2 separate regions of the Homo sapiens genome follow, and region 2 is linked to region 1. Evidence: fine-mapped expression QTL. A gene starts in region 1. The other region holds a variant in brackets. All regions are shown on one strand. Distances are between the middles of the regions.

The links. PIP is the estimated chance that this variant, and not a neighbour inherited with it, causes the effect.
Region 2: its variant is fine-mapped to the expression of SFI1 in regulatory T cells (Schmiedel 2018, PIP 0.92).

The regions. Positions count from the first base shown.
Region 1 is chr22:31,489,265-31,505,236 of GRCh38, reverse strand. SFI1 (SFI1 centrin binding protein) reads right to left here and starts at 8,701. Exons shown (of 33, transcript NM_001007467.3): 1 at 8,600-8,701. It overlaps EIF4ENIF1 (eukaryotic translation initiation factor 4E nuclear import factor 1), which reads left to right and starts at 15,395. Exons shown (of 19, transcript NM_019843.4): 1 at 15,395-15,543. RefSeq lists silencers at 7,680-7,739, 8,640-8,859, 14,991-15,640, 15,721-15,972 and enhancers at 8,350-8,619, 10,894-10,943, 14,381-14,440, 14,840-15,462, 15,463-15,972.
Region 2 is chr22:31,584,558-31,600,529 of GRCh38, reverse strand. SFI1 (SFI1 centrin binding protein) reads right to left here. Exons shown (of 33, transcript NM_001007467.3): 14 at 15,396-15,462; 15 at 10,953-11,083. Among named protein-coding and RNA genes, the nearest start is that of MIR7109, 29 kb to the left of the region's middle. RefSeq lists enhancers at 7,079-7,887, 8,697-9,506. The variant T/CCCCTCT (reference allele first, on the strand shown) is at 6,525.

The DNA.
Region 1 (15,972 bases):
AAACTCCTGACCTTAAATGATCTGCCCACCTCGGCCTCCCAAAGTGCTGGGATTATAGGCGTGAGCCACTGTGCCTGAGCCCATTTTTCATTTTCAATTGGTGATAATTTGTATCAAAAATATTCATTAGGAACTGAATAAATTATGGCATAGTTTTTTAAATTATTATTATTATTACTATTTTTCTTTTAGTGCCAGGAATAGCAGTGTTGTGGGTTGAATTGTGTTCCCCAAAAAAGATTTGCTGAAATCCTCACCCCTGCTACCTGCGAATGTGACATTATCTGAAAACAGGGTCTTTGCAGAAGTAATTAAGATGTAAGTTAAGATGAGGTCACATGGGAGTAGGGTGGGCCCATAATCCAACACGATTTGTGTCTTTCTTAAAAGAGAAGAGATACAGGGACAGATACACATAAAGAGGAGAATGCAATGTGATGACAGAGGCAGAGACTAGAGTGATGTATCTACAAGAATTGCCAAAGATTGCTGGCAACATCAGAAGCTAAGAGAAAGGCATGGAACAGATTCTCCCCTGAGCCTTCAGGGAGAGGATGACACCTTGATTTCAGACTTCTAGCCTCTAAAACTGTGAAAGAATAAACTTCTATTAGTTTTAAGCCACCCGGTTTGTGGTACTTTGTTACAGCAGCCCTAGGAAACTAATACAAGTAGTAAGACAGAAGAGTAAGATTTAAGTAAATGGTGGAGGCAAGCTAACAGGGTGAACACATCCTGTGTTGAGTAACGGTGATGCATTTACAAGTTGTTTCATTCTAAAAGAATGAAGTCACCCTTATAATCAAGGTCACATATTTCAATGACAATCAGACAAGGAATTAGCCAGTTTATCCATACAAAACGAATAATCCTTACTTACATCAAACCGATGTCCTAGTTTTTCTGATACTACACTCCAAGTAACAGAGGTCATCATAAGTGATTATTTCTATAAATAAATCAAATGGAGTATTCAAATAGTGATTTTTCGTGAAATACTGCTATAATCAATGTGTCACCGCCTTGGGTTTCTGTCATAATGATCCTGTGGAATGTCCTTCATGGTCAAGGACTCCCTTCTGTTATATACTCTATACCAGCATTCTACCTATTTGTACATGTCTGCCTTCCCCACTAAAATATAAATTCCATGGAAACAGGAATCACATCTGATCTTCTCTCCATTCTATCTCCAGCCTCTAAAACAACGTCTGTAACCTCACAGATAAAATACACATATACTGGAAAAACTAGGACACAGGTTTGCTTTCAATAAGGACATGTATGAATATAAACTTGCTTATAAGTTGGAATATAATGAATATAATGATAATCAAATACAAAACATGGCCGAGGACAGTGGCGCATGCCTGTAATCCTAGAACTTTGGGAGGCCGAAGCAGGTGGATCACCTGAGGTCAGGAGGTCGCCACCAGCCTGACTAACGTGGTGAAACCCTGTCTCTACTTAAAAAAAAAAAAAAAAAATTGGCATGGTGGCGAATGCCTGTAATCCGAGCTACTTGGGAGGCTGAAACAAGAGAATCACTTGTACCTAGGAGGCGGAGGTTGCAGTGAGCCAAGATCGCACCACTGTACTCCAGCCTGGGCAACAAGAGCGAAACTCCATCTCAAAAAAAAAAAAAAAAAAAACAGTCCAAGAAAAACAAAAATTATTAGGTGTTGACTCCCAGTTAAACATGTAGATTGACCTTCTAAGGTGGCAGCAAAGAATACAAAGGAACGAACCATAAGGTTAAAGAGATGACAGAAGCGATTATAGGACATGAGGGATTTCCACAGGTTTTACAAGAAAGGAAAATGAAGTGGCCTAACAGGTTTGAGGAAATGAAAAACTTCAGAGTGGATACCAAAGGAAAGTGGACCACACAGAATTCCAACCCTGTCAGACAGGGTATTCACGCCACTTCTGCTGTCCCGCTTCCAAAATTCTGGTAGCTAGATGGTACCTCTCAGGCAGGAGACTGGAAAAGTCTTCTCAGAAAACAATAAAAACTAACACATCTCCAGATTCTGAGACCTGTGCCTTACTCTCCATCAATGAAAAAGCAGACTTGTCCCTAGATTACCCTAAAGTGAAGCCCCTGAACTCACAAGTCCTGCTCAGACACAAGGAGCTTCCAACTAATTTCTCAGTTACACCTTTTTTTTTTTTTTTTTTTGAGACAGAGTCTCGCTTTGTTGCCCAGGCTGCAGTGCAGTGGCTCAATCTCGGCTCACTGCAAACTCTGCCTCCTGGGTTCAAGCGATTCTTCTGTCTCAGCCTCCTGAGTACCATCACACCTGGCTAAGCTAGACTGGTCTTGAATTCCTGACCTCAAGTGATCTGCCCGCCTCAGCCTCCCAAAGTGCTGGGATTACAGGTGGGACCCACCACGCTCGGCCATAATCTCTCAGTTACACTTAAGTATAAACAGACAATTGAGAATCATAAAACATTTAGAAAAGACCTCCAACAAATAAAAAAGAGACCAAAATAAACCCAACAAAGCACTGATGAAGTGCTACCACCCATGATGAAATCTTGCTAAAAAATTGAACCTGGCCGGGCGCAGTGGCTCACGCCTGTAATCCCACGACTTCAGGAGGCCGAGGCAGGTGGATCACCTAAGGTCAGGAGTTCAAGACCAGCCTGGACAACATGGTGAAACCCCGTCTCTAATAAAAATACAAAAATTAGCCGGGCATGGTGGCAGGTGCCTGTAATCCCAGCTACTTGGGAGGCTGAGGCAGGAGAATCGCTTGAACCCAGGAGGTGGAGGCTGCAGGAGCCGAGATCACGCCATTACACTCCAGCCTGGGTGACAAGCGTGAAACTCCATCTCAAAAAAAAAAAAAAATTGAACCTGAATATCATCCAGCCTCATCTAGAACTAAGTACAGTAAGTCCTCACTTAATGTCATTGATAGGTTCTTGGAAACGGCAACTTTAAGCAAAATGATGTATAAGGAGACCAATTTTACCATAAAAGGTAGTTGATACAAACAAGATTTAAGTTCCTGTAACATATTTCTGGTCAGAAAACATCACCAAACTTCTAAATAAAGATCCAAACCCTTTTAATATTAAACACTGAAATAAATGTGAGCTATACATATATGTACAGAAGATTCATAAGAACAAGTAAGATAATTATTTACCCACTTATTCCAGTTCAGGGTCAAGGTTGGCTAGAGTGTATCCTGGCAGCTCAGGGCACAAGGGGGGATGCCACCCTGGACAGGAAGCCATTCATGGCATTGCACACTCACACACACACTCACTGACACTAGGATCATTTAGACATGTCAATGAAGCTAATGTGCTTATCGTGGGGACATGGGAGGAAATCAGAGCATCCGGCAAAAACCCACATAGGCATGAGGAATGTGCCAACTACAGACAGACAGTGGACCCATCCAGAATCAATTTTTTCTTATCAATGTTATGTTTTAACAAAATGTTGAGAGTACCACACAATCAAAAATGTATAGACTATAATCAAAATAACATCTATAGATAAGGTACTCTGCTACGCATTAGTGCTAAGCACTTTTCATGAACTACCTACTTTAATATAACTACCTCAGCAAGTGGTTATCAACTTCATTTTACAGCTGGAGGGCTCAAGGTTCCCAGCTAACAAGTGGCGGAACTGGGACTAGTACAGGCAGACCTCAGAGATACTGAGAGTTCAGCTGCAGACCACATAAATAAAGCCAGTCACATGAATTTTTTGATTTCCCAGTTCATATAAAAGTTATGTCAGCTGGGCACGGTGACTCACGCCTGTAATCCCAGCACTTTGGGAGGCCGAGATGGGCGGTCATGAGGTCAGGAGATCGAGACCATCCTGGCTAGCACAGTGAAACCCCGTCTCTACTAAAAATACAAAAAATTAGCCGGGCGTGGTGGCGGGCGCCTGTAGTCCCAGCTACTCGGGAGGCTGAGGGAGGAGAATGGCGTGAACCCAGGAGGCAGAACTTGCAGTGAGCCAAGATCACGCCACTGCACTCCAGCCTGGGCAACAGAGCTACACTCCGTCTCAAAAAAAAAAAAAAGTTATGTCTACACTTGTAGTTAAGTGTGCAATAGCATTGTCTAAAAAACTAATGTACATACCTTAATTTAAAAATATTTGGCCGGGCACAGTGGCTCACACCTGTAATCTCAGCACTTTGGGAGGCCAAGGTGGGTGGGTCACGGGGTCAGGAGTTCGAGACCAGCCTGGCCAATATGGTGAAACCCCGTTCTACTAAAAATACAAAAATTAGCTGGTGGTGGTGGTGGGCACCTGTAATCCCAGCTACTCAGGAGGCTGAGGCAGGAGAATTGCTTGAACCTGGGAGACGGAGGTTGTAGCAAGCCGAGATCACGCCATTGCATTCCAGCCTGGGTGACAGAGCAACACTCAGACTCAAAAAAAAAAACAAAAAACAAAAACAAAACAAACACACACACACAAAAACACCACTTTATTGGGCAGGCACAATGGCTCACGCCTGTAATCCCAGCACTTTGGGAGGCCCAGGCGGGAGAATCACCTGAGATCAGGAATTTGAGACCAGCCTGGCCAACATGGCAAAACCCTGTCTCTACTAAAAACACAAAATTAGCTGGGTGTAGTGGCAGGTGCCTGTAATTCCAGCTACTCAGGAGGCTGAGGCAGGAGAATCGCTTGAACCCAGGAGGCAGAGGTTGCAGTGAGCCAAGATCATGCCAATGCATTCCACCGTGGGTGATGAGATGAAACTGTCTCAAAAATAAAAATAAAAATAAATAAAAACACCTTATTGCTAAAAAATGCTAACAATTATCTGATTCTTCAGTGAGTTGTAATATTTTTGCCAGTAGAGGGTCTTGCCTCCATGTTAATAGCTGCTGACTGATCAGGGTAGTGATTGCTGAAGGTTGGAATGGCTATGGCAATTTATTTTTTCTTTTTTTTTTTTTTTTTTTGAGACAGAGTCTCACTCTGTGGTGCGATCTCAGCTCCCGGGTTCAAGCGATTCTCCTGCCTCAGCCTCCCAAATAGTGGGGATTACAGGTGCCCGCCACCACAACTGGCTTTTATATTCTTAGTAGAGTCAGGGTTTCACCATGTTGGCCAGGCTGGTCTTGAACTACTGACCTCAAGTGATCGCCCACCTCAGCCACCCAAAGTGCTAGGATTACAGGCATGAGCCTGTAATGCAGGATTATACTGCATCCGGCAACTGTGGCATTTTCAATGTTTTTTTTTTTTTTTTTTTAAGATGGAGTCTCACTCTGTCGCCCAGGCTGGAGCACAGTGGTTGCAATGCTCACTGCAACCTCCGCCTCCTGGGTTCAAGCGATTCTCCTGCCTCAGCCTCTGGAGTAGCTGGGACTACAGGCGCATACCACCGTGCCTGGTAATATTTGTATTTTTAGTAGAGACGGGGTTTCACCATGTTGGCCAGACTGGTCTCGAACTCCTGACCTCAGGTAATCCGCCCGCCTCAGCCTCCCAAAGTGCTATGACAATTTCTTAAAATAAGACAATAGTGATGTGTGTCACATCGATGGACTCTCTTCCTTTCATCAAAGATTTCTCTATAGCATGTAATGCTATTTAATAGCATTTTACCCACAGTAGAACATCTTTCAAATTGAAGTCAATCCTCTTAAATCCTACCACTGCTTTGTCAACTAAGTTTATGTAATACTCTAAATCCTTTGCTGTCATTTCAACAATGTTCACAGCATCTTCACCAGGTGTAGATTTCAACTCAAGAAACCACTTTCACCAGGCACGGTGATTCACACCTGTAATCCCAGCACTTTGGGAGGCTGAGAGATGGAGACCATCCTGGCTAACACAGTGAAACCCTGTCTCTACTAAAAATACAAAAAATTAGCCAGGCGTGGTGACACATGCCTGTAATCCCAGCTACTCGGGAGGCTGAGGCAGAAGAATCACTTGAACCCGGGAGGCGGAGGTTGTGGTGAGCACTTTGGGAGGCCAAGGCAGGAGGACTGCTTGAGACCAGGAGTTCAAGACCAGCCTGCTCAACTAACAAGACCCTCATCTCAAAAAAAAAATTAGCGAGGCATGGTATTACACACCCAGGTACTGAGGAGGCAGGAGGCTAAGGCAGGAGGATCACTTTCGCCTAGAAGTTCAAGTCTGCAATGAGCCATGATCACCACTGCACTCCAGCCTGGACAACAGAACAAGACCCTGTCTGAAAACAAAAGTAAAAACAAAGCCGGGCATGTAGTGGCTCAGGTCTGTAATCCCAGCACTTTGGGAGGCCGAAGCAGGTGGATCACATGAGGTCAGGAGGTCAAGAGTGTGCCATGCACTCCAGCCTGGGCAATAAGAGTGAAACTCCATCTCAAAAAAAAAAAAAAAGAAAAAAAGAAGCCACTCCTCATCCATCCAAGTTTTATCATGAGGTTGCAGCAATTGGTCACATTTTTAGGCTCCCCTTCTAATTCCAGTTTGCTTGATTTTTCTATCATATCTGCAGTTACTTCCTCCACTCGGGTCTTGAGTCTCTCAGTTATCCATGGCGGCCTGACTCAACTTTTTCAAACTCCTTTTAATGATTTTTTTTTTTTTTAGACGGAGTCTTGCTCTGTCGCCCAGGCTGGAGTGCAGTGGTGCAGTCTTGGCTCACTGCAACCTCTGCCTCCTGGGTTCAAGCAATTCTCATGCCTCAGCCTCCTGAGTAACTGGGATTACAGGCGCCCACCACCACACCCAGCTAATTTTTGTATTTTTAGTAGACACAGGGTTTCTTCAAGTTGGCCAGGCTGGAATTGATATTTTAACCCCTTCCCACAAATCATGAATGTTCTTAATGGCACCTAGAAATCCTTTCCAGAACATTTTCAATTTACTTTGCCCAGATCCATCAGAGGAATCACTACCTATGGCAGCTATGGGGTCACAAAATATATATATATTTTTTTGATATGGAGTCTCATCACTCTGTCGCCCAGGCTGGAGTGCAATGGCGCAATCTTGGCTCACTGCAAGCTCCGCCTCCCGGGTTCAAGTGATTCTCCTGCCTCAGCCTCCCCAGTAGCTGGGATTATGGGTGCCCGCCACCACATCCGGCTAATATTTTGTATTTTTTAGTTGAGACGGGGTTTCACTATGTTGGCCAGGCTGGTCTCAAACTCCTGACCTCGTGATCCACCCGCCTCGGCCTCCCAAAGTGCTGGGATTACAGGCATGAGCCACCATGCCCAGCCCACAAAATGTATTTCTTAAATAATGACTTGAAAGTCAAAATTACTCCTTGAACCATGGGCTATAGAATGCATACTGTGTTAGCAGACATGTAAAGTAACATTAATCTCTTTGTACATCTTCATCAGAGTTCCTTGGTGACCAGGTGCCTTGTTAATGACCAGTAATATCTTGAAAGGAATCCTTTTTTCTGAACAGTAGGTCTCGATAGTAGGCTTAAAATATTCAGTAAACCACACTGTAAATATGATGTAAAGACATTCAGTAAAGAGATGTGTGGTCATCCTGGGTTTGTTGTTGCATTTACAGAGCATAGGCATTTCTAGCTTCGTCATTTCTAGCTTCGTCATTTCTAGCTTTTGATATAAAGTGAGAGACATGGAACTCTTCCTTTCACTGAACACTTAGGGGCCACTGTGGGGCTATTAATTGGCCTAATTTCAATATTGTTGCCTCTCAGGCTACAAGGAGGACCGAGAGGGAGGAGAGAAACAGGGAACTGGCAGGTAGTGGAGCAGTCAGACACAACACTTAAGTTTGCTGTCTTATACCAGTGAGGTTCGTGGCCACCTAAAACAATTGCAATAACAACATCAAAGATCACTGATCACAGATCACTGTAACGGTGCACCTGAAATAAAAAGTTTGAAATATAGCGATAGTTACCAAAGTGTAAGTGACAGGAAGTGGGCACATGCTGTTGAAAAAATAGTTGCTCGGTGCAGGGCTGCTTGCTACAAACTTTCAATTTGTAAAAAACACGGTATCTGTGAAGTGCAATAAAGCGAGGTATGGCTGTACTCAAGTCCCTCACATCATTCATTCAACAAATATTTACAACACATCTACACAGCAGTTAAGAAACCTGAACAGCCTCCCATAAAAACAGGTACCCACCTCCCACGCGGGGAAGGCTTCCAGGTTTGTTTACTGCGTTACTCCCTGCGGGCTCAGTGGGAGTAAGGTCGCCCATATACCAGCCCTTCCGCTCCTGGGCCACGGAGCCGGGAGGAGGAAACCCCTGATTTGGATCCGCGCACGCTAAGGGGCATTGCGTGGACTCGAGCACCGGCCAGGAGCGCACTAGACGCCTGGGAGGATGCGGTGCCCCCAGGGCGGAAGACAAGAAGCCGAGAAGACGCGGCGGGAGAGGATGGCAGGCTCCGGGCCCCGTCCTGCGCCCTCTTGTCGCACTTCCTCCATTCCCGCACCACAGACCCGCAGGTAGACAACATCACCTGCACTTTCAGGGGAGGAAGCGGAGGCTCGGACAGATTTCACCGGGCTCGGAGGAACCCGACTGAGGTCCTTGCCGGGCTCACTGCCGGAAAGGCCGAGCCCAGAAGAGGGTGGGGACGTTAGGGCCGGGCCTCGTACCTGGGGAAGCCGAGCCATCGGGCCTGACGTTGGGAGAAAACCCGGCGGTATACGGCGATCCGGGACCTGCTTCTTAACTCCCGCGCGGTCCACGCCCGCCTCAGCGCTTCGCGCGCCTCTAGACGCCAGTCTCGCGCGGGCCCGCCCTCGTCTCCACGGCGACGCGGCGCGCACGAGGACCACCCCGCCCAGACCCCGGGGCTTGCGCAGCCTCAGTCGGGTAGGTGGCGCACTTCGGGTTGCTTTGCAGCAGCAGCAATGAGAATCGGTTTCGAGGGGCGTGGAGCATGCACCCTCTGGGCATCCCCACCGAGGGTTCTTTATCTCCTTGGCTCGCCAGCTTCGCTCTGAGCTCAGCTTGCTACTGCTCCTCTTAGACAAGAGAAGTGGGAGGTATTCCGAGGCGGAACCCCGAGTTACGCCGCCCGCGGCCGAGCACTAAAGATGAGGTTCCAGCTGGGAGGCGGCTGCGTACGAAAGTCCTCCCTCCCTCACTTCCGGACTCGTGCGTGGGCCTCTCTGGCTTTTGGTTCACAGGGAGTGGAAACCGGAACCCGTGGAGTATGACCCGCCCATGCGTGGACCCGGCAGGTTGCTACAACTTGCACTTGGAGGGGAGAGGTCCCAAGGCCCCCGAATTAGAAATGCCAGGCTCATCTCTTTTTGTAACCCTTCATTTTAAAATGTAATTAATAAGCACTCTTTTTGTTAAATTTTTAAATTTGGGCCGATCCTAATAATCTTAAAAATAGGAGTGGGAGGGGTAAGTGGGACTTTTCAAATACTTTTTTACGTGCTTTGTAAAACATTTGAAAGCACGTGAGATTCCTGGTGCAGAGACTAAAAGCAGTAGTTATTTATTTGAAAGATTTTACGCTAAAAACAGGAAAATTAACTTGTTGGGTGTCTCGGGCTTAGCATCACAGACAATTTGTATTTTTGCCCTATTTTCTACATGCTAATTTTTGCAATTAAAACATTTATTATTTATTTTTTGAGAAGGAGTCTCCCTCTGTAGCCCAGGCTGCAGTGCAGTGGCGTGATCTGGGCTCACTTCCACCTCCACCTCCCGGGTTCAAGTGTTTCTCCTGCCTCAGCCTCCCAGGCGCACGCCACCACGCCCGGCTAATTTTTTTTTGTTTTTTTGATAGAGACGGTTTTTACCATGTTGGCCAGGTGTGTCTCGAACTCCTGACCTCAGATGATCCGCCCGCCTCGGCCTCCCAAAGTGCTGTGATTACAGGCATGAGCCACCGCGCCTGGCCCTAAATTATGTTTTATATGGTGAAACCTCGTCTCTACTAAAAATAAAATTTAAAAAATTAGCCGGGGGTGGTAGTGGGCACCTGTAATCCCAGCTACTGGGGAGGCTGAGGCAGGAGAATCGCTTGAACCCAGGAGGCAAATGTTGCAGTGGGCCGAGATCGTGTATTTGCATTTGCCTGGGCAACAAGAGCAAAACTGTCTCAATAATAATAATAATAATAATTTAAAGGGAGTTCTACTTTAGCGGACATCAATGCTAATGTTTTAGGGACAACTTTTATCTGAACTTAATGTGGCCAAGTAGTTTTAAAATAATTTAGTAAGCTTCAAGGTTGTAATTAACAGTATAACAAAAATATATTTACTGTAATTTAGCCTAAGTACTTTTATGTAATTATGTAAATTTATATAAATTATATATTTAGGATAAGTCAATAAGCACTTCTTTCTAGATGATTTGAGCTAATTTCCTAATGCTTTCTTCCTGTTATGTGCATTTACCATCCTCAGCTTTGACAAATTTAGGAGGGATGAAAGGCATTTCCATTTGAGTTACAATGAAAATAGTCCTGTTGGGAAAGATTAGAAGATAATAGTACATAATAATAGCTAGGACAAGGACATCTTAGAGGCTGGGCACGGTGGCTCACACCTGTAATCTGAGCATTTTGGAAGGCTGAGCCAGGAGAATTGCCTGAGCCCAGTAGTTCAAGAACAGCCTGGGCAACATAGTGCCCATCTCTACAAAATATAAAAAATTTGACCAGGCGCGGTGGCTCACGCCTATAATCCCAGCACTTTGAGAGGCCAAGGTGGGTGATCACTTGAGGTCAGGAGTTTGAGACCAGCCTGGCCAACACGGTGAAACCCCATCTCTACTACTAAAAATAGAAAAATTAGCCAGGCGTGGAGTCACGAGCCTGTAATCCCGGCTACTCGGGGGGTTGGGGCAGGAGAATCGCTTGAACCTGGTGGGGGCGGTTGCAGTAAGCCAAGATCCTGCCACTGCACTCCAGCCTGGGTGACAGAGCGAGACTCTGTCTCGAAAAAAAAAAAAATCTAAGGGTTACTCTTGGAGCAAGAAAAACTGAGTAGGAAAAAGCCCATTTAGAGAGGTGCAATCCAGCCTTCTGTGATGAGGCTGCTGAAAGGTCATGGCCTGGCATTAAACTCTCTCACAGGTGCTCTCATAATTTCTGGGTTTCTAGTATTTTCTTTTTTCTTTTTTTTTTTTTTTTGAGACAGTTTCACTTTTGTCACCCAGGCTGGAGTGCAGTGGCGCGATCTCGGCTCACTGCAACCTCCGCCTCTCAGGTTCAAGCAATTTTCCTAGCTCAGCCACCCAAGTAGCTGGGATTACAGGCATATGCTACCACGCCCAGCTAATTTTGTATTTTTAGTAGAGACGGGGTTTGGTCACGTTGGCCAGGCTGGTCTAGAATTCCTGATCTCAAGTGATCCTCCCACCTTAGCCTCCCAAAGTGCTAGGATCACAGGCATGAGCCACCATGTCCGGCCAGTTTCTGGTATTTTCATTTGCTTCTCTGCTGTTCTTGGACTGCTAATTTCCCCGACTGACTGAACCTTTGAGACCCCTTATGCCAAACTTTGGGCCAACAATTTAGACCTAAACCAAGATCTTACACATATTTAGTAAAGAACTAGAATAATTTCTCTCTCAAAGAGCTTTCCCAAGCTGATACTTGAAAATTGGTTATTAGTTGCAGAAGGGGGCATTTAGAATTACAAATTATTGGCCTGGCACGATGGCTCACACCCAGCACTTTCGGAACCCAAGGTTGGGGGATCACGTGAGGTCAGGAGTTCAGACCAGCCTGGCCAACATGGTGAAACCCCATCTCTACTAAAAATACAAAAGTTAGCCAGGTGTGGTGGCACAGGCCTGTAGTCCCAGCTTCTTGGGAGGCTGAGGCATGAGAATTGCTTGAACTCAGGAGGCAGAGGTTGAGTGAGCCGATTGTGCCACTGCACTCTAGCCTGGGCGACAGAGCAAAACTTGGTCTCAAAAAATTACAAGTTATAGGCCAGGCGCGGTGGCTCACACCTGTAATCACAACACTTTGGGAGGCCAAGGCGGGTGGATCATGAAGTCAGGAGATCGAGACCATCCTGGCTAACGTGGTGAAACCCTGTCTCTACTAAAAATAAAAAATTTAGCCGGGCGTGGTGGCGGGCGCCTGTAGTCCCAGCTACTCGGGAGGCTGAGGCAGAATGGCCTGAACCCAGGGGGCAGAGCTTGCAGTGAGCCGAGATTACGCTACTGCACTCCAGCCTGGACGACAGAGCGAGACTCCGTCTCAAAAAAAAATTACAAATTATCAGGCCGGGCGTGGTAGCTCATGCCTGTAATCCCAGCACTTTGGGAGGCCGAGGTGGGCGGATCATGAGGTCAGGAGTTTGAGACCAGCCTGACCAACATGGTGAAATCCTGTCTCTACTAAAAATACAAAAATTAGCTGGGCGTGGTGGCATGCGCCTGTAATCCCAGCTACTCAGGAGGCTGAGGCAGGAGAATCACTTGAACCTGGGAGGCAGAGGTTGCAGTGAACCAAGATCACACCATTGCACTCCAGCCTGGGCGATACAGCGAGACTCCTTCTCAAAAAATAAAAAATAAAAATAAAAATTATCCTGCCAAGGAGAGTAACACTCAAAAACTACAATGAAACAAGAATTTGCAATTTGTAAGCATCTAGCTTTTGCCAGGCACAGGTGAAAGAAGTTTAGGGAAGCCTCCCTTAGATTATTACCTTTTTTCCTAGGTAATAACCATCTTCTTCTATAAGGACAGAGTGAGACTTTGAGAGGTAAGAAATGAGTTGAGGCCAAAGTTCTACAAGACATTAAAGGAGCCTAGTGGAAAAGTAGGTCCTAAGTAGGATAGACCAGAGGGCTCAGGAAATTAGTTCCAGCTATCAAATCATGATAGCTACAATGCCCTGGGCACTGATATCATGTATGGCTTGTGGTGGTTTAAAACATGCCTACACATTCCTTGACATTCCTCCCACATAGAGGTGGAGTCTAAGTTCCTTTGCTTTGAATATAGGGTAGCCGTGCTGACTCCTTTCTAAGGAACAGAATGTGGCACGTGGTAGAACTGATTCCAGGGCTAGGTTAGGAAAGGCAATACAGCAACTATATGGCTTTCTTGTTCGCTCTCTGAACACTTGCCCTTAGAATCCAGCCCTGATATTTCAAGGAAGCTCAGACACAGGGAGAGGCCATGTGTAAGTGTTCCAGGGACAGCTCTAATGGTCCCAGGTCCTAGCTGACAGCCACCATCAACCACCAGACATGTACGCTTTTACGGGACCCTCAGCCCCAGCCTTTGGGCTGCCCCCACTGGTGCTGAATGGATCAGAAACCAGCCGTCCCAGCAGGAACCAGCCCATTTTGCAGATTTGAGAGCAAAATATAATTGGAATTCTGGGGTGGTTTGTTACGTAACAGTAGGTAACCAGAAATCCATAATTTCCGGGTTTCTAGTATTTTCTTTTTCAAGAAAGCTCAGGTGTGGTGGCTCATGCCTGTAATCCCAGTGCTTTTGGAGGCTGAGGCAGGAGGATCACTTGAGGCCAGGAATTTGAGACCAGCCTGAGCAACATAGCAAGATCCCGTCTCTGCAAAAAATCGTTAAAAATTAGCCTGCTGTAGTGGCAGGAGCCTGTAGTCCCAGCTATTTGGGAGGCTGAGGCTGGAGCAGTGAGCTATGATTGTGCCATTGCTTTCCAGCCTGGATGACAGAGCAAGACTTCATCACCCCCAAAATAAAATAACCAGAGCAGTGTTTTTAATGTTATCTTTAATTCCCTCTGCAAGCCTAAAAAGTAGGTATACTGCGATCCCTTTCGGAAAAATGAGGAAAGGGAGATCCAGGTGGTGAAATGCCTGGCTCAGGTTTCACACTAATTGGCAGGGTCAGGATTTAGCAGCTTCAAAGAACGGGCCTTCTCCACTACTCCAGGGAGTCTCCAAGACACTAAAGGGGATTAGACCTGTTTCCCACAGCTTTAGGAAGAATTTGGATTCCAAAAACAGCTTGATTGTTAAAATAATAACATCTGTATTATCACCTGCAACGTGTCTCTGTATAGGCTTAAAAAGGCTCAGCAGCTTTATGGGTTATATATGGTTTTTTACCCACCTTATCCTGTTTAATCTTAACTGCCCCATGAGCAGGTTATATCATCTTCGCAATTTCACAGGTAAAACTAAGAATCAATAGACTAACTCTCCATAGCTTGTAGGAGGTGGCAGAGATGAGAATGCAAACTCAGGCCTGATGTGCAAGTGTTTCCCTCTGCCTCTTGCCTGTAAAAAAACAGTTTGTAAGAAACACACTTTATTCAGTAATACAAACGAAAAGTTTTCTGTTGCCAAGATTCACAAGAAGGGAGCTGAGTTAGTGGTCACTCACTGCCCAACACCCTAATTTCACAAGTGAAGTGAAGTTCCAACAAAGTAGGCCTCTTGGAAGAAATGTAGACGTTGCTGTCCTTTAACCAGGAAAATTGCGTTCTCGGGACTTCACGCCTATGTATCGCTTCACACCAACGCTGCGCAGTACCACAGGGCAGAAATGGGTGCTTGTGGTATTCCAGCACATAGGACTTCCTCCCCAGGATGCAGTTACCCACACTGCTCACATATTTGCATTTCTGTGGCCCCCTGTCAGCCTGAGTCTGCACTACGTGGTAAGCACTTGACATTCGCCGTCTCATTTCCCCAACTCCACTCGCACTTCCCCTTTCTGTGCAGGCTAAGGACAGATTCAGGTTACCGGAGGGAAACAACATTTCAATGAATTTGTTAGTCGCCTTTATCGCTATCAAAGCCAATCGTGACAAGTTTGTCTTTTAATGCAGCAACCAGTACTCGCGCATAAGCCTCATAGATTTACAGAGGCCATTTTAGAAACACGACCGAAACTTAGGTTAAGTCAGCTTTGCCTAAGATCACGCCACTCGCAAAACAGCTGAGGTTCGAACCCGCACTGGGAAGGCTCGGAAGACCCCAATCTCCTATCTCAAATTCCCACTGCCGAAGCCCCACGGTTCTCTGCCTATGCGAACCATGCAAATACAGCGGTCGTCGCGCCACAGGCCGTGCTAGCCGCCAGCCCAGCCCCATCTAGCCACCGCCTCCGGGAGAGTGGCGTGCCGCGAGTCGCGGGTCCCAAGTGCCGTCCGCTCTGCCCTGCAGCGCGCGTGGGAACGCGGCGGCGGTGGCCTCTGGGCTGCCCACGGCGACCGCCTGCGCGCACGGGAGCGGGTTTCCGCTATCCCCACCGTGGCCTCCTCCTCGCCGCCACCACCTTCCCACCCCCCGGCCCGCGCAGGGGCTGGCGTCCGGGAAGCGCGCGGCGATGCTTCTTTTTCGCCCGGCACCGCTGCAGCCACCTCACATCCGGGCGCGCGGCGGGGAAGGCGGCGCCGGGGCCAGGGTGCGTGGAGGGAGTTATTAAGGGGGAGGGGGCCGAAGAGGAGGGGCGGAGGGCCGGGCTGCAGTTACGGCGGCTGAAGAGAGACAGCCCAAGCCGGTCGGGGTGGGGGCGCGAGAGCGAAGGCTGCGGGGAGCGGCGCTGGGACCGGTGCGGGCAGCGGGGAGGGGAGCGGCGGCCGAGGCAAAGGGCCGCCGAGCGGCGGAGGCACCGAGTAAGGGTCGGCGGCGGTGGCGGCTGGGTCCGGGGCACCGCGCGCCCGGTGCTCCCGGGTGTAGAAGGGGCGCGGGCGCATTGCTCCCGGGGTCGCGTGCGTGAGCGCGGGCGCCGGGGCGCCCGCAGGGGGTGGGCAGGGGCGCGAGGCCCGCAAGGCGGCCGGCGGGTAGCCGGCGGGCTGGCTGGCGGGGACCGAGCCGCCGGGCCGGGGAGGACGGCTGCGGGCCTGCGCTAGCTCCAGCTTGAAGCGCCCGGGCCGGGAGATTCGGCCTCCCTCCTCCCTGCGGCCGGCCGCCCCTCAGTGAGTACGGTCTCCGCCCTTCCTCCGAAGGAGGCCGCTGGGCCCGGGCCTGCGTGAGGGGCTGCGGGTTGGGGTCGCGGCCCGGGGAAGCCAAGTTTCGGAGCTGAAGCCGGTGCTCGCCCTTTC
Region 2 (15,972 bases), 95 kb before region 1:
GGGCCTGGAGGCCTAGCAGAGAGTGACTGCTGCAGGGCCAAGAGGGGAACAGAGACAGCAGAAGCTGGACAGGGTTGAAAGACGGAGCTCTGGCCCAGCCAGAGGGCAGAGACCAGACACAAAAGCTGAGATCGTTCAACCCCAGTTGACCTTAGTATAAAAACACTAAAAGATCATCTTTAGGCTGAAGGGAAATGATACAGATGAACATTCAAATGTACAGGAAGACACAAGGAACACTGGAAAGGGAAAATATGTGGGTAAATATAAGAGGCTGAATTTTTTTCTTCTCAATTTATAAAAAGAGTACTGATTATTTAAAGCAAAAATAGTAACGTTGTAGGCTGGGCCTGGTGGCTCATGCCTGTAATCCTAACACTTCAGGAGGCTGAGGCAGGAGGATTGCTTGAACTCAGGAGTTCAAAACCAGCCTGGGCAGCATAGTGAGACCTCGTCTCTACAATCAATCAATCGTTAGACATAAAATGTATGACAAAAAGTACCACTGGTTGGGGGTGGTGGCTCACTCCTGTAATCCCAGCACTTTGAAAGGCTGAGGCAGGAGGATGTCTTGAGCCCAGAAGTTCAAGACCAGCCTGGACAACATAGTGAATCCCCACTATGATTTATTTCTTAAAAAAAAAAAAAATAACAACAATAAAAATATCATCAAGGATGGGGACAAAATAGAATTTTATTGTTTTCATGTTCTTGCACTAAACATGAAATGGTATATTAATTCTAAACAGAACTGGGCCAGGCATGGTGGCTCACGCCTGTAATCCCAGAACAGTGAGAGGCCATGGCAGGAGGATCACTTGACCCCAGGAGTTTGAGACCAGACTGGGTGACATAGTGAGACCCTTTTTCTACAAAAAATTAGAAAAAAAAATTAGTCTGGGCTAGGCACGGTGGCTCACGCCTGTAATCCCAGCACTTTGGGAGGCCAAGGCAGGTGGATCACGAGGTCAAGAGATGGAGACCATCCTGGCCAACCCAACATGGTGAAACCCTGTCTCTACTAAAAATACAAAAATTAGCTGGGCGTGGTGGCGTGTGCCTATAGTCCCAGCTACTTGGGAGGCTGAGGCAGGAGAATCGCTTAAACCTGGGAGGCGAAGATTGCAGTGAGCCGAGATTGTGCCACTGCCACTGCACTCCAGCCTGGCAATAGAGCGAGATTCTGTCTCAAAAAAAAAGGCTTTTCAACAAATGGTGCTGGAAAAACCTGATAAACACAGAAAAAAATAAACCTTGACTCCTACGTCATATCATATGTAGAAAAAAAATTCAAGATGATCATTGACCTAAATGTAAATGCTAAAACTATAAAGCTTCCAGATAAAATATAGGAAAATATATTTTCAGATCTTAGAGTAGCAAATATTTCTTAGGGAGGACCCTAAAATCACTAACCATAAAAAAAAAGGATAAATTGGGCCGGGCGCGGTGGCTCACACCTGTAATCCCAGCACTTTGGGAGGCCGAGGCGGGCGGATCACAAGCTTAGGAGTTCGAGATCAGCCTGACCAACACAGTGAAACCCCGTCTCTACTAAAAACACAAAAATTAGCTGGTCGTGGTGGTGTGCGCTTGTAATCCCAGCTACTCAGGAGGCTGAGGCAGGAGAGTTGCTTGAACCTGGGAGGTGGAGGCTGCAGTGAGCTGAGATCGTGCCACTGCACTCCAGCCTGGGCAACAGAGCAAGACTCCATCTCAAAAAAAAAAAAAAAAAAAAAAGATAAACTGGACTGTATCAATCCAACAGAATTCAAACACTTCTGCTCATCAAAAAAAAAAAAAAAAAAAAAAAGGCCAGGCGCAGTGGCTTATGCCTGTAATCCCAGCACTCTGGGAGGCCGAGGCGGGCGGATCACGAGGTCAGGAGATCGAGACCATCCTGGCTAACAGTGAAACCCCGTCTCTACTAAAAATACAAAAAATTAGCTGGGCGTGGTGGCAGGCGTCTGTAGTCCCAGCTACTCGGGAGGCTGAGGCAGGAGAATGGCATGAACCTGGGAGGCAGAGCTTGCAGTGAGCTGAGACAGCGCCACTGCACTCCAGCCTGGGCGACAAGAAAAAAACCATGCAAAACTAACCTATGATGACGGAAATCAGAATACTGGTTACCTATGCAGGGTAGGGACTGACTGGAGGGGACATGAAGGAACTTTCTGGGGTAACAGAAATGTTCTGTATCTTGACTGGAGTGTTGATTATATAGGTGCATAAATTATGAAAACTCGGCCGGGCATGGTGGCTCACGCCTGTAATCCCAGCATTTTGGGAGGCCAAGGCGGGCGGATCATGAGGTCAGGAGATCCAGACCATTCTGGCTAACACAGTGAAACCCCTTCTCTACTAAAAAAAAAAAAATACAAAAAATTAGCCGGGTGTGGTGGTGGGCACCTGTAGTCCCAGCTACTCAGGAGGCTGAGGCAGGAGAATGGCATGAACCCAGAAGGTGGAGCTTGCAGTGAGCCAAGATCACGCCACTGCACTCCAGCCTGGGCAACAGAGCGAGACTCCGTCTCAAAAAAAAAAAAAACCTATGAAAACTCATCGAACTTTATTTAAAATCTATGCCTTTCACTGTATACACATTTTATCTCGATTAAAATAAAAGACAAACCAATTTTGTCTCATTCTCAGTACCTTTCACTGGAGGGTTATAAAAATTATTTTTAGCCATAATTCATGAGATTCCATCATAAAATCTGTCTATATTCCTAAAACATTAAAAAATACCCTAAGAATATCAAAGATACATATTTATTTGGAACTTTAATTTGCTAAACTCCAAACCAATCCTCTGAAAATGTACTTACCATGAGAGTCACAAATTAAAACAACTCCAGGGGCCACAGGGACAGTTCATATTTTTATGCTAGGCCCTTGGTTTGCATTTTACATGTTTTCCCATTTCATTTTCATGACAACCATATGAGATAGAGACTATGACCACATCATCTCAATTTTACATTCGAGGAGACTGAGGCTCAGAGAGACAGACTGACTTGTCCAGGGTCACAGAGCTGGCAGGCGACAGAGCATAGGTCTGAACTCAGGCTTGTCCAGCTTCTAAGCCAGACTCTCAATCACTCTGCTCATGAACAAGGAAAACAGGAATCCAAAAAACCAAGTTTACTGAAAAGGTCCAACCAAGCCAAAACAGGTAAAAATCTAGATCAGGCCTACACCGTCCTGCAAGCCTCCTGGCTATACCCTGTCTCCAAGTCGCCCTCTGCCCTTTTTCTCCAGAGTGATAGCTCTAAAACCACCCAAACTGCTCCCTAGCAAAAATCCTTTAAAGGCTCCTCTTGGCTATTTGGAAGGTACTTTTAATTTTTGGTTCTCACAGCATACAAAATACAAAAAAAGAATAGAACCAAGCACGGCTACTTGACAGTAAAAAAAGAAACGGGTACTGTGTGTGCATGTTTTCAGTACTGAAGCCATTTGGAAACGGGTACTGTGTGTGCGTGTCTTCAGTACTGAAGCCATTTAGAAACGGGTACCGTGTGTGCGTGTCTTCAGTACTGAAGCCATTTAGAAACGGGTACCGTGTGTGCGCGTTTTCAGTACTGAAGCCATTTAGAAACGGGTACCGTGTGTGCGTGTCTTCAGTACTGAAGCCATTTAGAAACGGGTACTGTGTGTGCGTGTCTTCAGTACTGAAGCCATTTAGAAACGGGTACTGTGTGTGCGTGTTTTCAGTACTGAAGCCATTTTTTTTTTTTTTTTTTGAGATGGAATCTTGCTCTGTCACCTAGGCTGGAGTGCAGTGGTGCGATCTCGGCTCACTGCAATCTCCACCTCCTAGGTTCAAGCGATTCTCCTGCCTCAGCCTCCCGAGTAGCTGGGATGTGCGCCACCATGCCTGGCCAATTTTTGTATTTTTAGTAGAGATGGGGTTTTGCCATGTTGGTCAGACTGGTCTCCAACTTCTGACCTCAGGTGATCCACCTGCCTTAGCTTCCCCAAGTACTGGGATTACAGGTGTGAGCCACCGCGTCCAGCCTGAAGCCATTTTTGAATGAATCTTATACCAGCCCACAATACATGACTAGGTAAAGGCAAAGCTGCTCTGTCTGCAGAAGCCAGAAGAGACAAGAGATGTCCTTTCATCAGCCTCTATTTCCCGTGGCCACCACCTAAAACCATCTCCCTGGACTTCGTACTAAGGAAGCCAGAGTTCTGGCTAACCTCAAACTAGCATTCAAAGCCCTCCAGATGGATAGACAGATAGATAGAGAGAGAGAGAGATATTTATTTTGAGATGGAGTCTCGCTCTGTCATCCAAGGCTGGAGTGCAGTGGCGCCATCTCAACTCACTGTAGCCTCTGCCTCCTGGGTTAAAGTGATTCTTGTGCCTCAGCCTCCGGAGTAGCTGGGATTATAAGCATGCACCACCACGCCCCGCTAATTTTTGTATTTTTAGTAGACATGGGGTTTCACCATGTTGGCCAGGCTGGTCTGAAACTCCTGACCTCCAATGATCCACCCACCTCTGCCTCCCAAAGTGCTGGGATTACAGGCATGAGCCGCCACACCTGGCCTGAAATCCTCCAGATTAAAGATGACTGCAACTTCTCCCAATGCATGCCCCTCCATCTCACCCCTCTGTCCTAAGATAAAGTACACTGAACTTAAGGTAATTTCCAAAACTGTCATTTTACTAGTTCCATGTACCTGCTCAAATATCTTTCGAATATCTATCTATAGGGTCAGCCCAATCTCTTCAGTCTGGGCCTCCCCATCTTGCCCACTCCAGCCACCATCCTCACCCTCTCACTCACAGGAAGCCTCTCCCAGATACTTCCATGCTCAGTCTCCCTCAGCACTAGCTCTGAGCACTGGAAGAACTTGTGGCTGACATGACTGGGGACACGTGGATCTGTTCTCTTGAATTGGTTCTCAGTTGTTTCTTATCTCCTCACAAAAATTTCACCCTCCTACAAAGTCATCAAAAAGATCTTCCTCTTGATCAAGAAGAAAGCACCTGGACTTTGGAACTGGAGATGTGAATTAACCTGGCTGTACCACTTACTGGTTGTGTTACCATTTATCATTTTGAACCTGACCTCTCAGAATCACTGTGAAAAGGAAATTATTAATGAAGATAATGATGCCATGGGCAGAATGAGTTTATGTATTTGTTTTCTGTCTCCCATCACACAATGCCCAACACAGTGGCAGACATACAGTTAGTGATTAATAATTTCTTCATTACAGGCTGGGCGTGGTGGCTCATGCCTGTAATCCCAGCACTTTGGGAGGCCAAGGCGGGTGGATCACGAGGTCAGGAGTTCGAGACCAGCCTGGCCAACATGGTGAAACCCCGTCCCTACTAAAGATACAAAAAATTAGCCGGGCGTGGTGGCGCACACCTGTAATCCCAGCTACTTGGGAGGCTGAGGCAGGAGAATTACTTGAACCCAGGATGTGGAGTTTGCCGTGAGTCAAGATGGTGCCACTGCATGCCAGCCTGGGCGAAAGGACAAGACTCCAACTCAAAAATAAATAAATAAATAAATAAATAAATTATTATTATTTCTTCATTATGTCCCACCATATACTAAGAACCTGCTGTGGGCAAGTTTGTCCCTGTGGGAACTAAAAAGATGTAGATCTGCTCCTTGAGCTTTCTAATTTTTTTTTTTTTTTTTTTTTTTGAGACAGAGTCTCACTCTGTCGCCCAGGCTAGAGTGCAGTGGTGTGATCTCAGCTCACTGCAAGCTCCGCCTCCCAGGTTCATGCCATTCTCCTGCCTCAGCCTCCTGAGTAGCTGGGACTACAGTCGCCCACCACCACGCCCGGCTAATTTTTTGTATTTTTAGCAGAGACAGGGTTTCTCCGTGTTAGCCAGGATGGTCTTGATCTCCTGACCTCGTGATCCGCCCGCCTTGGACTCCCAAAGTGCTGGGATTACAGACATGAGCCACCAGGCCCGGCCTTTTTCTTTTCTTTTTTTTTTTTTTTGAGACGGCGTCTCGCCCTGTCACCCAGGCTGGAGTGCAATGATGCGATCTCAGCTCACGGCAACCTCCATCTCCCAAGTTCAAGCAATTCTCCTGCCTCAGCCTCCCGAGTAGCTGGGATTACAGGCATGTGCCACCAGACCGGGCTAATTTTTGTATCTTTAGTAAAGAGAGGGTTTCACCATGTTGGCCAGGCTGGTCTTGAACTCTTGACCTTGTGATCCGCCCGCTCCGGCCTCCCAAAGTGCTGGGATTACAGGTGTGAGCCACTGCACCCGGCCCGACCTTTGTAATTTTGTTGATGACTATCATTTCAAGACTTCAAAAAGCCAGGTCTAGCAGAACAGGAACTAAGTGTTTCGGGGAAATGACACTTAAGAATGTCTGCCAAGGTGAGGCAAGGTCCCACCGTGCTCTGATCCAGAAAGCTAATGGGCTGCTTTAATGGAGCTCTCAGTGGCTAATAATGAAGGTTACAAACAGGCTGTTTTGAAAGCCCTTGAAATAAAGATGGACACCTCCCTCTCCCTCTCCCTCTCCCTG[T/CCCCTCT]CCCTCTCCCTCTCCCTCGTCTCCGTCTCCCCATGGTCTCCCTCTCATGCGGAGCCGAAGCTGGACTGTACTGCTGCCATCTCGGCTCACTGCAACCTCCCTGCCTGATTCTCCTGCCTCAGTCTGCCGAATGCCTGCGATTGCAGGCACGCGCCGCCACGCCTGACTGGTTTTGGTGGAGACGGGGTTTCGCTGTGTTGGCCGGGCCGGTCTCCAGCCCCTAACCGCGAGTGATCCACCAACCTCGGCCTCCCGAGGTGCCAGGATTGCAGACGGAGTCTCGTTCACTCAGTGCTCAATGGTGCCCAGGCTGGAGTGCAGTGGCGTGATCTCGGCTCACTACAACCTACACCTCCCAGCCGCCTGCCTTGGCCTCCCAAAGTGCCGAGATTGCAGCCTCTGCCCGGCCGCCACCCCGTCTGGGAAGTGAGGAGTGTCTCTGCCTGGCCGCCCATCGTCTGGGATGTGAGGAGCCCCTCTGCCTGGCTGCCCAGTCTGGAAAGTGAGGAGCGTCTCCACCCGGCCGCCATCCCATCTAGGAAGTGAGGAGCGCCTCTTCCCAGCCGCCATCACATCTAGGAAGTGAGGAGCGTCTCTGCCCGGCCGCCCATCGTCTGAGATGTGGGGAGCGCCTCTGCCCCGCCGTCCCATCTGGGATGTGAGGAGCGCCTCTGCCCGGCCGAGACCCCGTCTGGGAGGTGAGGAGCGTCTCTGCCCGGCCGCCCCGTCTGAGAAGTGAGGAGACCCTCTGCCTGGCAACCACCCCGTCTGAGAAGTGAGGAGCCCCTCCGCCCGGCAGCCGCCCCATCTGGGAGGTGAGGAGCGTCTCCGCCCGGCAGCCACCCCGTCCGGGAAGGAGGTGGGGGGGGGTCAGCCCCCCGCCCGGCCAGCCGCCCCATCCGGGAGGGAGGTGGGGGGTCAGCCCCCCCGCCCGGCCAGCCGTGCCGTCCGGGAGGGAGGTGGGGGGGTCAGCCCCCCACCTGGCCAGCCGTGCCGTCCGGGAGGGAGGTGGGGGGGTCAGCCCCCCGCCCGGCCAGCCGCCCCGTCCGGGAGGTGAGGGGCGCCTCTGCCCGGCCGCCCCTACTGGGAAGTGAGGAGCCCCTCAGCCCGGCCAGCCAGCCCGTCCGGGAGGGAGATGGGGGGGTCAGCCCCCCCGCCTGGCCAGCCGCCCCGTCCGGGAGGGAGGTGGGGGGGTCAGCCCTCCCCCCGGCCAGCCGCCCCGTCTGGGAGGTGAGGGGCGCCTCTGCCCGGCCGCCCCTACTGGGAAGTGAGGAGCCCCTCTGCCCAACCAGCCGCCCCATCCGGGAGGGAGGTGGGGGGGTCAGCCCCCCGCCCGGCCAGCCGCCCTGTCTGGGAGGGAGGTGGGGGGGTCAGCCCTCCGCCTGGCCAGCCGCCCCGTCTGGGAGGTGAGGGGCGCCTCTGCCCGGCCGCCCCTACTGGGAAGTGAGGAGCCCCTCTGCCCGGCCAGCCGCCCCGTCCGGGAGGGAGGTGGGGGGGTCGGCCCCCCGCCCGGCCAGCCGCCCCATCCGGGAGGGAGGTGAGGGGGTCGGCCCCCCGCCCGGCCAGCCGCCCCGTCCGGGAGGGAGGTGGGGGGGTCAGCCCCCTGCCCGGCCAGCCGCCCCGTCCGGGAGGGAGGTGGGGGGGGTCAGCCCCCCTGCCCGGCCAGCCACCCCGTCTGGGAGGTGAGGGGCGCCTCTGCCCGGCCGCCCCTACTGGGAAGTGAGGAGCCCCTCTGCCCAACCAGCCGCCCCATCCGGGAGGGAGGTGGGGGGGTCAGCCCCCCGCCCGGCCAGCCGCCCTGTCTGGGAGGGAGGTGGGGGGGTCAGCCCTCCGCCTGGCCAGCCGCCCCGTCTGGGAGGTGAGGGGCGCCTCTGCCCGGCCGCCCCTACTGGGAAGTGAGGAGCCCCTCTGCCCGGCCAGCCGCCCCGTCCGGGAGGGAGGTGGGGGGGTCGGCCCCCCGCCCGGCCAGCCGCCCCATCCGGGAGGGAGGTGAGGGGGTCGGCCCCCCGCCCGGCCAGCCGCCCCGTCCGGGAGGGAGGTGGGGGGGTCAGCCCCCTGCCCGGCCAGCCGCCCCGTCTGGGAGGGAGGTGGGGGGGGTCAGCCCCCCTGCCCGGCCAGCCACCCCGTCTGGGAGGTGAGGGGCGCCTCTGCCCGGCCGCCCCTACTGGGAAGTGAGGAGCCCCTCTGCCCGGCCAGCCGCCCCGTCCGGGAGGGAGGTGGGGGGGGTCAGCCCCCCCGCCCAGCCAGCCGCCCCGTCCGGGAGGTGAGGGGCGCCTCTGCCCGGCCACCCCTACTGGGAAGTGAGGAGCCCCTCTGCCCAGCCAGCCGCCCCGTCCGGGAGGGAGGTGGGGGGTTCAGCCCCCCGCCCGGCCAGCCGCCCCGTCCGGGAGGGAGGTGGGGGGGGTCAGCCCCCCTGCCCGGCCAGCCGCCCCGTCCGGGAGGTGAGGGGCGCCTCTGCCCGGCCACCCCTACTGGGAAGTGAGGAGCCCCTCTGCCCGGCCACCACCCCGTCTGGGAGGTGTGCCCAATAGCTCATTGAGAACGGGCCAGGATGACAATGGCGGCTTTGTGGAATGGAAGGGCGGGAAAGGTGGGGAAAAGATTGAGAGGTCGGATGGTTGCCGTGTCTGTGTGGAAGGGAGTAGACATGGGAGACTTTTCATTTTGTTCTGCACTAAGAAAAATTCCTCTGCCTTGGGATCCTGTTGATCTGTGACCTTACCCCCAACCCTGTGCTCTCTGAAACATGTGCTGTGTCCACTCAGAGTTAAATGGATCAAGGGCGGTGCAAGATGTGCTTTGTTAAACAGATGCTTGAAGGCAGCATGCTCATTAAGAGTCATCACCACTCCCTAATCTCAAGTAACCAGGGACACAAACACTGCGGAAGGCCGCAGGGTCCTCTGCCTAAGAAAACCAGAGACCTTTGTTCACTTGTTTGTCTGCTGACCTTCCCTCCACTATTGTCCCATGACCCTGCCAAATCCCCCTCTGTGAGAAACACCCAAGAATTATCAATAAAAAAATAAATAAATAAATAAATAAATAAATAAAAAGAAAAAAGTTGGAATATAGAAAAGCCAGTAGTAAAACTAATCAAGAAAAAGAGAGAAGCAATTCAAATTTAAAAATATATATAAAAATAAAAATAAAATAAAAAGAGAAGGGGAAATGGACACATTCTCTTAAAAACTTGAAACGCTGGCCGGGCGCAGTGGCTCACGCCTGTAATCCCAGCACTTTGGGAGGCCCAGGCAGGTGGATCACCTGAGGTCAGGAGTTCGAGACCTTGCTGACATGGTGAAAGCCCCGTCTCTACTAAAAACACAAAAAATTAGCTGGGCATGGTGGCAGGCACCTGTAATTCCAGCTACTCAGGAGGCTGAGGCAGGAGAATCGCTTGAACCCGGGAGGCGGCGGTTGCAGTCAGCTGAGATCACACCACCGCACTTCAGCCTGGGCAACAGGAGTGAAACTCTGTCTCAAAAAAAAACTTGAAATGATTAATTGACATAAGAATTAGAAAATCTGAATAGCTCAACAGCCAATTACCAAAATCTGAATAACCCTTTGAGGTAAGCACTATTACTCCCCCACTGCAGAGATGAGAAAACTAGAGAATTGGTCATTTGAGTACCTTGGCCAAGGTCACAGAACAGAGCCAGGATTTGAACCCAAGCAGTCTGATTCTGTGACTTCTCTCTACTCCATGGTGGTGGATTCTATGTGTCAACTTGACTGGGCCACTGGGTGCCCAGATTAAACAGTGTTTCTGGGTGTTTGCAGATGAGACAAGCATTTGAATCTGTGGGCTCAGTAGAGCAGACTTCTCTTCCTAATGTACGGGGGCCTCAGCCAACCCCTTGAGGGCCTGAGTAGAACAAAAGGAGAAAGAATCTGCCCCTTTTGCTTCCTGCCTGCCTGCGTGGGCAGATCTCATCTCATCTTCTCCTGCCCTTCAACTGGGATTTACACCTCGAGGCCCCTTGGTTCCCAGGCCTTTGGACACAGACTGGAATTGCACTACCCACTCTCCTGAGTCTCCAGCTTGCAGATGGCAGGTCATGGAACTTCTCAGCCTCCATAATAGTGTAAGTCAATTCCTCATAATAAGTCTCTTCATGTATATGTTAACTTGACTAAGCCACTGGCTGTTCAGATTAAACACTACACATTTTTTTTAATAAATACATATATACACACACACAAAAAAAATAAATAAATAAAGATGGACAAAAGATTTCCCAGGGGAAACACTGTCTTGTCTTTTCCTGCTAGATGAAATCAATGAGCCCACATTACTGAAAATCCAGGAAGTACTAGGGCCTGGGGTCTGGGAAGCTGAAAAGCACAGCAAATGGGCTGTGTGGTTGTCAGAGTTAGATTTGAAACACCTGCCCCAGTGCAGACAGGAGCTGCGCAACATACCTGTGGAAACGTGTTGCTCTTGCACTGAGGACATTTTCCTGGTGGCGCCATCGCCAGAGTCTGTTCCATGTGTGGAAGGCAGCAGGCAGGGCTCTCTGCTGGAAATGACCATCCGCTCTGGCCTGTAGCAGCTAAAGTAAAAGAATGAATAACCTTTGTACTTAACTTTTTTTTTTTTAAACATGACCTCTCAGGGTCACACCCTTGTGGGAGGATTGCTTCCTATATAATAAAAATGAGAAAAAGATGAATCATTATTTATTATCTTTGCCAATATGCTAGGTGAAAAATGAAATAGGATAGGTAAAAAAATTTTCACTTAAACATTAGTTAAACATTTCTACACACACACACACACACACACACGCACACACATACACACACTCTCACTCACTCTCTCTTCCCCCTGGCTTAGGTGTTCATACCCATTACCTGTTTCACTGTCTGTTAGCATTTGACTCAGTGATATGTATGGGGTTTTTGAACCTAAACAATTTATTAGTCCTTTGTCATGTGTTATAAATCTTAAATATTTCCCCACCCCATAATATATCTTTTGATTTTGTTTATAGTGTTTGTCATACACATTAATGTAATTATAAAAGTCTACTATTTTACTGATACATCAGTAGGAAGACAGACAATGGACATAAGAATATACCATATATGTCTCCATGATCCAAAACTTTGGGGGGAAAAAGCATATATGCATGTATAGAGGTTTTATGTTTTTGTTTTTTTTGTTGTTTTTTGTTTTTTTTTTTTTGAGACAGAGTCTCACTCTGTTGCCAGGCTGGAGTGCAGTGGCACAATCTCAGCTCACTGCAACCTCCGCCTCCCGGGTTCAAGTGATTCTCCTGCCTCAGCCTCCCGAGTAGCTGGGACTACAGGCGTGCGCCACCACGCCCAGCTAATTTTTGTATTTTTAGTAGAGACAGGGTTTCACCATGTTGACCAGAATGGTCTTGATCTCTTGACCTCACGATCTGCCTGCCTTGGCCTCCCAAAGTGCTGGGATTACAGGCATGAGCCACCGTGCCCAGCCCAAATGTGTAGAGGTTTTAAAAACATGGCTGCAAATTATTTGCTCCTCCTTCACTGAGAAGTGATCTATGTTCCCTCCCCTTGAATCTGGCTGGGATAGTGACTGCTCTGACCAATAGCACATGGTAAAAGTGGCACTGTGTGAGTTCTGAGGCTATACAAAGAGCCACAGAGCTTCTGACTTGTTCACTGGAACACTCATTTTGAAGCTCTGATAGCTGACTACCCCAAGGCCACCATGCTGTAAGGAAGCCCAAGCCTCACAGAGAGGTCATACACAGGTTCTTTGGTTAACATTCCCAGTTGAGCCCAGTCTTTGAGTCATTCTAATCCAGGATCTAGATGTGTGTGAAGAAAACGTCTAGATAATTCTAACCCCTTGCCATTAGAATCTTTTCAGTTGAGGCTGATCTTGGAGCAGAAACCAACCATTCCCATTAAGTCCTGTCTCAATCTTTGATAATCCATAAAGCATAATAGAATGGTTGTTGTCTTATACCACTGAGTTTGGGGTGATTTTTTACATAGCAATAGATAATTGGATCAGTATGCATATGTATGTGTATGTGAATAGATAGGTACATACACTCCTACCCAAACAGAGGAAGAGAGATACCAGGCTTACCCATCAAATGTCATGAATGGTTTTATTTTTTCTTCTTTATATCTTTTTATACTTCCTAAATTTTCTATAATATCTACACATTGCTTTTCTATTTTTTATTATGGGCATTTTCAAATGTAAACAAAAGTAGAAGCCGACAGTATAATGAATACCCATGACCCTACCATCAAGCTTCAACAGTTAGCAAACATTCGCCATTCTGCAAAGAGCCATCCTTTGGTATTTGTGGGGGACTGGTTCCAGGGCCCCTCTCAGATACCAAAATCCATGGATACTCAAGTATCTTATATAAAATGGTATAGCAGGCCGGGTGCAGTGGCTCATGCCTGTAATCCCAGCACTTTGGGATGCTGAGGCAGGCAGAGCTTGGGAGTTTGAGACCAGCCTGGGTAACATGGTGGCACCCCACCTCTACAAAAAAAAAAACAAAACACAAACATTAGCTGGGCGTGGTGGCTTGCACCTGTAGTCCCAGCTACTTGGGAGGCTGAGGCAGGAGAATCGCTTGAGCCTGGGGAGAGTGAGGCTGCAGTGAGCCAAGATCATGCCACTGTACTCCAGCCTGGGTGACAAAGTGAAACCTGTCTCAAAAACAAAACAAAACAAATAAATTGGCATCTGCATATAACCTACACAGTCCTCCTGTATGCATCTCTAGATTACTCATAATACCCAATACAATGTCAATGCTATGTACATAGTTGTTATGCTATATTGTTTATATATTGTTTAGGGGCTAATGACAAGAAAAAAAGGTCTGAATATGTTCAGTACAGACACAACTACTCTTTTTTTCCTCTGAATATTTTTTATCCATGGTTGGTTGAATCTATGGATGTGGAACCCACAGATACAGAGGGCTGACTGTATGTTACTTTTTAAAAAGGAAGAAACCCACAAAAAATAATATTTTTATCTTGTCTAAGAATAGAAAGATCTGATGTGCTCCTGGGATACCTATACCAAGAGGTGATATTCAGATTGTTAGCTAAAGGTTTAGGAATGACTAAGCAGTGCTCTTCCCATTTTTCAGACCCGCTATACCTTTGAAAGCAGGCCGTGCTAGATCAGTGTGAGAGATGAAAACGCTGACCCTGGACTGTCCGCCAGTGTTGGGCCCCTGTGTCAAGGGGAGTGCTCGTTTTCCAGGAAGGAAATAAAAGAGACCCTCTGCTCTCCACCTTGAATAAATACAACCTTTCAACTCTGACACTCATAGTCTTTTTCTGAAAGGCTTTCCTGCATTCTGGTGAACTTGTATTACATGAACTTAAGATAACAAGTGGCAATGTCTTTTCAAAGCCAGTAACATAATCCAAAGGCATGTCAAAGAATGCAGTGACTCTAGCATTTCTTAAGTGTAGGAGGCAAGAGTGACGCAAAAAGAGGCCATGCCCTGTAGCATCCAAGCTCTATCGACTTAGATCATCCTTGGAAAAAAACTCTGAAGAAATCAACAGCAGTTCATTTGTTGGTCTGTGCATTAATTCATCCAAATATTAGCACATATCCCATGCCAAGCACTGTGGGCTAAGGAGGCAAAAGGGACAGGCTGTACTCTAAAGGACTTCACAGCCTGTGGGGAAAGAGAAGCCAGTGAACAACTATAAGATGAATGTTCTGATAAAGCTATGCCTCTGGGGTAGGGGTGGAGGTGGACTGGCCTGGGGGAGGAGGTGACATCTGAGCTGGAAGGGAGTGTGAAATAGAGAACTGGAGGTACAAAGAGAAGCAGGAGGGCACAGAGGACCTTTAGGGAACCACTGGCAGCTTAACTGGTCAGAGTGCAGTTGTGAAGGAACAGAGTGGTAACAGGAAAGGGGAGAGAAACAGACAGGGACCAGCTCCCGAAGGAGTTTGTAGGCCTTGCTAAAAATTTGGATTCTATCCCCAAACTATAGGGAACTAGCTAACAGGTGAATCTAAAGATTCACCTGTTAGACTCCAACAGAAGATGGAGGTACGGGTAGGGTGGGCAGCACGAAAATAACTGGGAGGAGTTTGGTTTGTGTCTTCCTCTGTTTCACTGCCAGAGATGACCAAAAAGGGGGCACTTCTCACAATGGCAGATGCCATCAACTGAACCCTTTCCCACTGAGTGTAAATATGGCCTTGAAATCCTTCTCACTTCAACATTCCAGACAGGTACTCCCAATTGGTAGAACGGGCTTGTAAGGTCACACTCATTTGTCACCCTGGTGCTAAAGTATGAGCCCTGGGAGAGCAGGAATTTTATTGACTTTATATCACAGTTGTATCCTCAGTGCTTAGTGCAGTGTCTGAAGAACAGCAGTTGCTCAATAAGTATTTCTTAAATGGAATTGAATCTATCTTTCTCAATCTGCCTTTACTTATTTGTGGTCCTGACCTCACATCCTCCACCCCCGGGAGACATGTGTCTCACACTGTTTAGCACTGGGATGCAGCACTTATGCTCTGCACCTCTCCCTGTACCTCTTGCAGGTCCCACTGGGTGAAGGGCTGGCTAACTCAGAGACTAAATGAATTTGAGTAAAGATGTGAATGGCTGATAAGAGCTCAGTACTTTCAGAGAGAACTTGTATTTTCATAGCAGATAAGAAATGGGAGTTATGCAGACTTTCTGATATTAGAGGTGGGAACTGGAAGAAATGACTTTGAGCTTTTTCAACACCCTCTCTTCCAAAGCAGAACGATAAGACTTCTTGGCATAGGTCTTTTCCAAGAATCTTTCCAAAGCAAATGGGTCCAAGAATGTAAGCCAGTAGAGCTATCTGCTAAAAAGTACTCCATACCTGCTTGTACCGCCTCTTCTGAGTATACTGTAGCCACAATTCGATACATTTGCACAGCAGTGCTATTCTGAAACAAAAGGAAGAACACCTTCAGGTTTCAAGTTTTTAAAACTTTGTTTTAAGGCAGGTAAATTGCGGTACAGTTACTTCCTGTGAGTTAAAGGCACCCCATGGGCTTACTAGTTTCATTCTAGGAGAGACGGCAATAAGAACCTGATATCTAATATAAAATTTGTCAACCTCTGATTTTGGACTGTGGATTGCCTAAAATGTTGCAACTTTCTTGTAAAACCTAATTAGACCACCGAAAGCACAGTAGCTCTGGAATTTAGGAAATATGTGTGAAATCCCCTAGATATCCTGAACTTTCTGGTTTCATGGCCAAACGCTGGGGGTCCACGACATGTTGCCTCTCACACTAGGTTTTGTAAACCAGGGTTTGGAATAATATGCCTTGATAACTCTAAATGAGTCAGTTTATTATTGGGATTCTCACTAACTCATTAAAAAATGCTTCAAAATTGGAGCTAAACTATGCAAATTAAGTTGATTATACTGTGGGGAGAGGAAAAAAGGA